2 linked regions of the Homo sapiens genome follow. The protein of the gene in region 1 purifies or fractionates together with the protein of each later gene. This does not show direct contact. Each region holds a gene or a part of one and is shown on either strand. Other genes may lie near its edges. The genes, in order: IREB2 and LEMD3.

Region 1 (3,831 bases):
TTTGCACAAAAATGTAAGTATTAGCACATACAAAGTTTATTTATAAATAGAGAAAAGTTACTATCAGCCTCAATATTCAAAGGTCTGTTAACTAAACCACAATGCATTCATACAGGCAATATTGTGCAGCTATTAGAAGCCACAGAGAAGTACAGGTATCCCTTTCTACCTGAACTCAAGCTCCCTGACTCAGAAACCAAGTAGATTCAGATAGCAAGGGATACCTGTATTCAATGACATGGAAAGATGTTCATGATATATTAAGTGAAAAAAAGGGTTACAAAACAACATATACTTTATTTTTATTAAAAGTAGCATATTTACATATATTTTTGTATACACATAAAAATGAGACTTTCTGTACCATCTGCAATGTTCTTGTCTTTTTGTGATTCTTCTAAATGATAAAAACTCTCCTAAAAAATTAAATACAGGATTTTCTTCCAAAGGCTGCAAGGTAGGATTTGGACACTAAGTCCCGGCTCTACTGGAGGACTAAGCAGTACTGTGGTTAAAAAGGCAAGCAGACAGGAAGGACAAAAGAAAGGGTGAATAAGATGACCTGAGATAAAGGGTGCCTGGGGGCTTTACACCACCAGAGGCCCTGTTGCCCAGTAACAGGTACTCTCTCAAAACTACCTTTCACTCCAGCCAGGCCAGTCTCTCCACCATCTTCCCCTTCATTCAACATAGTCATTCATGTTTCCATTATGCTGTTCATTCTAATTCTCTGATGTTAACTGTCCTCCATCATACATGGAGACACCACTGATTTCTCCACTCCTTAAAAATAGCAATAGTTTCAAATTCAGAGATCTACTTAAGAGAGTCACCCAAATCAGCTACTTGAGAGGGTGAGGTGGGAGGATCTCCTGAGCTCAGGAGTTCAAGGCTCCAGTGAGCTATCATCATGTCAGAGCACTCCAGCCAGGTTGACAGTAAAACTCCATCTTTATAATTTTTTTTTTTAAAGAGTTACTCAAAATCTACATTTTGAGACTACCTAGATTTTGACATGTTTCTAGTCAGCACATTGGGAGTGCCAGACAGCCAGCTCCAGAATATTAAAGAGATTCCCCACAACTGGCTGCGTGCAGTGGTTCACGCCTATAATCCCAGCACTTTGGGAGGCCAAGGCAGGAGGACTGCTTGAGGTCAGGAGTTTGAGACCAGCCTTGTTAATATGGCGAAACTCCATCTCTACTAAAAATAAAAAATCAGCCGGATGTGGTGGCACACACCTGTAGTCCCAGCTACTTGGGAGGCTGAGGCACGAGAATCGTTTGAACCCTGGAGATGGAGGTGGCAATGAACCAAGATCATGCCACTGCACTCCAGCCTAGGTAACAGAGCGAGCCTCTGTCTCAAAAAAACAAAACAAAATAAAACAAAAAACAAAAAAAACCCCACAAAAAATAAAAAAACAAAGGAGATTCCCCACAAGCAAAATCATACAAGATCAAAATGTAATCAATGTCTAAGATGTGCCCACTTCCATAGAGATACCCTGAGTATAAATTTGGGAAGCAAAAGGATAAAATGGCAGTAAAAAAGCAGAAATCAAATAATCTGTGTTGAACTCTATCTAAAGTCAGAATAAGAGAAGGCATCAGGTTGGTAACGCAGATAGATTAGGCTGGTTCACTCACCACCCACTCCCAACCACTTCTCCCTTTCCTTTCTCTATTGTAAAAGATGTAAAGGTAAAATACAGTACCCCATCTTATCTATGGTTTGGCTTTCTGTGGTTTCAGTTACCTGCAGAACAGCACAATAAGATACTTTGAAAGAGAAAGACCATATTCACATAACTTTTATTACAGTACATTGTTATAACTGTTCTATTTTATTATTAGTTATTATTAATCTCTACTGTGCCTCATTTATAAATTAAGTTTTATCATAGCTATGTATGTATAGAAAAAAATATATACCAAACAGTACATACACGGTTTGGTAGTACCCATAGTCTCCGGTGTCTACTGAGGGTCTTGGAACATATCCCCCATGAGTAAGAGAAGACCTTGATTATTCCATCTTTCAGCCTTCTTGAAGCTAAGAGTGGCCACTGATACTTTGGCCAAAGAGGCAAAAGCCCCTGGAGAGGGCTTTTATCATGGTTATAAAAACTGGTAATTCTGGAATTATGTTAAGTACACATGTACTCTGTACAGTTATGTACAAATTCCCATGACAGCTTATTTCCCAGGGAAAATTTAACTTGGACATAATGCCTGGAGGTGCAACCAAAAGAATAAAAACAGAACGGGAAGAAAGGACGAGCCTAGATCCTTGCGGAGATTGGTGCTGCACAGCCCCAGTCTGCCAATCTCCACACTTCGTTATGTTAGAAAAATAAACTCGTATTTCTTAAAGTCATTGGACAGCAAGTTTTCAGTTCTTTGCAGCTGCAGGCATCCCTGACATAGTCAGCATGGAGCTTAGAACAGTGTTTCTCAACTATCTTTACTCTGTAACATTTATGAGGGATAGAATCCATTCCCTTCATTAATCGTTACTCATTACAACAGTCATTCTCAACCTAGCAGGCATCAAAATGTGGAATGGAGGTGGAGAAGACTGGCTCTGTACCTTGGTGACTACCAAAGCAATGTCTTCTTGTAAGCATATGTCTAGGAGGCAATTCAATCTGATCCTTTCAAAAATGCAATAAGGATTTTTTGTTCTAAGGTTAAACAACCAAATACTTCCTACCTAACTTGTTCCTTTCTTTCAAAGTCAATTCTTCAAATTTTATTCCTTATTAGGAAATTACTTAAGTAATTATTACTTAATAACCTCTCATAATAAGCACTCTATTAAAAAAGCAGGAGGGGCTGGGCGCAGTGGCTCACTCCTGTAATCCCAGCACTTTGAGAGGCTGAGGTGGGTGGATCACTTGAGGTCAGGAGTTTGAGATCACCCTGACCAACATGGTAAAACCACCATCTCTACAACTAGCTGGGTGTGGTGATGCACGCCTATAGTACCAGCTACTTGGGAGGTTAAGGCACGAGAATCGCTTGAACTCAGGAGGCAGAGGCAGCAGTGAGCTGAGATCACACCATTGCACTCCAGCCTGGGTGACAGAGCAAGATCCTGTCTCAAAAAAATAAGTAAAATAAAATAAAATAAAATAAAATAAAAACCAGGGTACTGACCCCACATAAAAACCAACTTTCTGTTTTGAAAGTATTTATAGTCACAGGTATTCTATTATTACATTTATCATGGTTATAAAAACTGGTAATTCTGGAATTATGTTAAGTACACATGTACTCTGTACAGTTATGTACAAATTCCCATGACAACTTATTTCCCAGGGAAAATTTAACTTTCAGATTATCAATCATTCCCTTTCAATGCATTTTACAGTTGTTTTTGACAGTTTCCTACTGATTCCTTAAATTTGAGAAATTTAGGTCATCTTCCTTCAAGTAAGCACATTTCTACAGATTATACACAGAAAGTATTTATACTCAATTTTCAAAACATCTTATGTGCTCCTTTAATTTATTAAACTATGAAATTTGGGTTAAAAGACTTCCAAGCCAGTATCACTAGATTATTTTGGAGAAGTAAATGGGAAATAAAATGACTATTCTTGTAAACGATCAATCTAGCTGTTTCTTTTCAAAATTAATGCAAACTCACCATCAGTGAAGGGATAAAATTAATGTGAAAGACATACATTAAGAAAATGACCAACTTCCTTTAACAAACGTATCAACACAAATCACTGCAGCTAAACATGCAAGGTAAAGGATATTGCTCTCATTTTGGCAAACTGTTTATTTTTAAATGACAGCCTAATTCTAAAATGGGGATTCT
Region 2 (3,468 bases), on another chromosome or scaffold:
GCCACCGCGCCTGGCCAGCGCTCTGCACTCTTTTACTGGAAAGTGGGAGGAGGGCTGAGACTTCTGAATTGTAATTTTTAAATCTACCTCCTGTTAGTCAACAAGCATTTACTTAATACCAATTAAAATCGTATGTGGTTTTAAAACTATACCAATTCTAGTAATATATATATGTTGTAAGAGACAGTGAAGAATTTTTACCGAGTAGGAATATGGTTGTTGATTTTTGTTTTCATTAACTTTTAGGGAAATAGGGGATCAGTGGCATTTGGCAATTCAAGAAGCAATTTTAGAAAAATGCAGTGATAATGATGGCATTGTTCACATTGCAGTAGACAAAAATTCACGTGAGGTAAAGTAACTTTTGGTATTGAATTTCATGTTTTGGATTTGTTGCTATTAAACTAAGACTATTTTCTTTCTTTTTTAATATCACAGGGTTGTGTATATGTTAAATGTCTGTCTCCAGAATATGCTGGAAAGGCTTTTAAAGCATTGCATGGCTCTTGGTTTGATGGTAAGAAATTTGAGTACTACAAACATTTTGAAAAGATAGTTATAGTTTAATTTTAAACTATACCAGATTTCAAATAAAAGAATTTAGGTTAGCATTTTTTTGAGTAATAATTTTAGATGACTTTATTTATGTTTTGTGCTCATATGTCTTTTACCACAGTTAATTTTCTGCAAATATTAAACAGTTTTACTGATCTAAAATATTATTTTTATCTTACAACAGGGAAATTGGTTACAGTAAAATATTTACGACTAGATAGATACCACCATCGCTTTCCCCAGGCTCTCACTTCCAACACTCCATTGAAGCCATCAAATAAACATATGAACTCCATGTCTCATCTTCGTCTTCGGACTGGCCTAACCAATTCTCAAGGAAGTTCCTGAAAAGATTTTCTTCCATTTCTAAGACTGTTATTTACAATAGGAAAATTCCTGTTTGGCTTTTTGTCTTCCTTTTTAAATGCTTTTTGTATGTAATATTTTTATTGATGAATACATCTCTGAACGTTCCAGAAGTCTTAAGGTTCCAAAGGGATTTAGCAGTGAGGCAGCAATGCTGAGTAGGTAGGATAATTATTTCATTCAGTTTTTGGAGCTCAGTTAAGCCAATACATTTAAAGTTTTGCATGAGGAACACTGACTTTATTAAGCATTTTCAGATGTGGTGGTTGTATTTTTGCCCCAAGAAGTGTTTGGATAACCACACAAAAGCATGATGAAAAGGCTTCTTGTAGTCCCATAATTTCTTGTGAACTAATGTTGTGAATTTTTGTATACAGTCACCTGCATAGTTCCTACAGGCTAATGTGGTAAAACTGTTGATTTCCCAATTTAACCTTAGGTTTCTGTTGCTTATAAGCGATTCATTTGCTACGGCTGGAATATGGGAAAATTAATTTGGGCTTAGTGGTTACAAATATGTGTAAGTGGATGTATATGTACTTAAACTGGCTTTGTATATATGTATAAATGCTGGTGGTGGTGAAAGTAGTCTTGTTTTATGAGGATGTCTGCATTAAAGCAGTAAAATAAGCTTTCCATTTTATTCATAATCTAATGTGTGTGTATATATGTATGTGTGTATGTGTGTGTATATATAGATGTATATATATACACACACAGAGATATATACATATGGCTGTACTTTTGCATAGATCAAACAGCCAAACACCTGGAAGTATTAGATACAAGTTTAAAATATCTTTTATAGGTTTTATATAAAAATGTCTGAGTATGATTTTGTGTGAAAGTTCTGATACCAGTTGTAATAGAGTCAAATTTATGTGAGCAATAAAGAAGAAATTGGCAGATATTGGAAAAATATTTTGTGAAAAGCTGTATTTATTATAAATACTAGGGCCATGACATAGTACCATTGGGGTTAAGTCATTTTCCCAATCTATTTATAATTTAATGATATGTTAGTGCCTCTGTTATATGTCAAGTTTAAAGCAGGGCACATTGTTGCAGCAAAATGTGTATTTGACAAATTATACTTGCAATTTTGGGTCATGAAAGTTTGCAATATAGTAAATGCACGATTGACTGTTGCTTTGTGCCTCAGTATTTAATTTGTTTCAGTAAACTTACTTTATTACTGTTTATGATTTCAGATAAAAATAGTTGCTGAGTAAATTTTACTTGTAATCTACAATTGGCTTTTTAAAAATAACCTGTTGATATATAATTGTCAGTCCAAATGAATATGTGAAACAGCTGGAATTGTACAAATTTTGGTTGTATTTAAAGCTCAGTTTCCTTTTTGTTTTATTGTATGCGTTGGGTTTGCAGCATGAACTTGCACAGATAATGCACGTTTTCTGGTTAAGTAAACATGATGCACACTATTCTGTAACAGAAAGCCCTATTGTGCCTTACCTGTGTGCTTTTGTGGGCACCTTGTTTATGAAGAATAAAAAATGATTTGTTATCTGAAGAGAATAAATTTTAAATTCTCAGTTTATGTCTCAGATGCTAACGTGTGAAAATATAAATATATATAATATATAAAGTAACCAGTCTTCCTGTATTTTATGTGCATCATAGTGATTTATCTGAGCTTAGTGACCCCCATCTTGTAACCTGTTGCAAGAGTGAATGTAAAAAATAGTTGTGGCATTTTAAAAGGTCGCCTTTGATGCAGATGCATCTTTTTCTTGCTTCTAAAACATATTTCATGTAAACATTGTACATTTATTATTGTAATATATACTATTATGCAGCTTATTTTACCTGAAACTGTTAAGCCGACCAAGATCCCTCCCTGCAAGACAGATGGGAATGTGTATAATAACTAGGTATTTGAGAAGTTCTGAAGTTTGATGTAATCTGTTACTTGTCCTGTTAAAAAAAGGAAAAAATTCTAATTAAAAATTTATTAGTTTTTTTTTATGTGTCTTGGCTTTTTAAAAACATTTTAAGTGCCCTGTGTCTGTATTTATTTTTTTACCAGTGAAAATAGGTGTCTTTAGTTTAAATGTTTGACAGCCTGAATATTTGTGCTTATAAAGATGAATGAAGACCATAAAGTTAATTTTAACTATCCTTCCCCTCAGCATTTTATTTTTCCTTATGAAAATGTCTTCATCCAACTTTCAAGTATTTGAACCAAAATGGGGCAAGAATGTCAATCAGCTACATCACAAAGCATTAGTTCTGCTAGATACTTTTTCACAGCAAGACTTTCTTAAAAAGGAAGCATTTCTTTTTCTTTTAACATTCTGACTTGAATTCTATTGCATTATAAACTATTAACAGTTCATAGGCTAGTTACTTTACATAGCATTGGTTTAGACTTTTTGATATGTTAAGTAAAAAGAAGACTAGTCAGTCATGTGGTACACTTATTGATTACTAACAAATGCCAAGTACTGTTATGTGTTAGGGATACAAAGATGAAAAACACATGACCGAATCCTCAAGATGGTCACAGTCTAGAGGAAGAACACA

The links.
Region 2: the proteins of IREB2 (region 1) and LEMD3 fractionate together in Homo sapiens (co-fractionation; one large-scale study listed by BioGRID). This does not show direct contact.

The regions. Positions count from the first base shown.
Region 1 is NC_000015.10:78,441,200-78,445,030, reverse strand, and holds part of IREB2 (iron-responsive element-binding protein 2), read right to left. Parts: intron 1-3,831. UniProt on the Homo sapiens protein: RNA-binding protein that binds to iron-responsive elements (IRES), which are stem-loop structures found in the 5'-UTR of ferritin, and delta aminolevulinic acid synthase mRNAs, and in the 3'-UTR of transferrin receptor mRNA.
Region 2 is NC_000012.12:65,245,423-65,248,890, forward strand, and holds the end of LEMD3 (inner nuclear membrane protein Man1), read left to right. Parts: intron 1-246; coding exon 247-352; intron 353-438; coding exon 439-517; intron 518-739; coding exon 740-903; 3' UTR 904-2,933; downstream 2,934-3,468.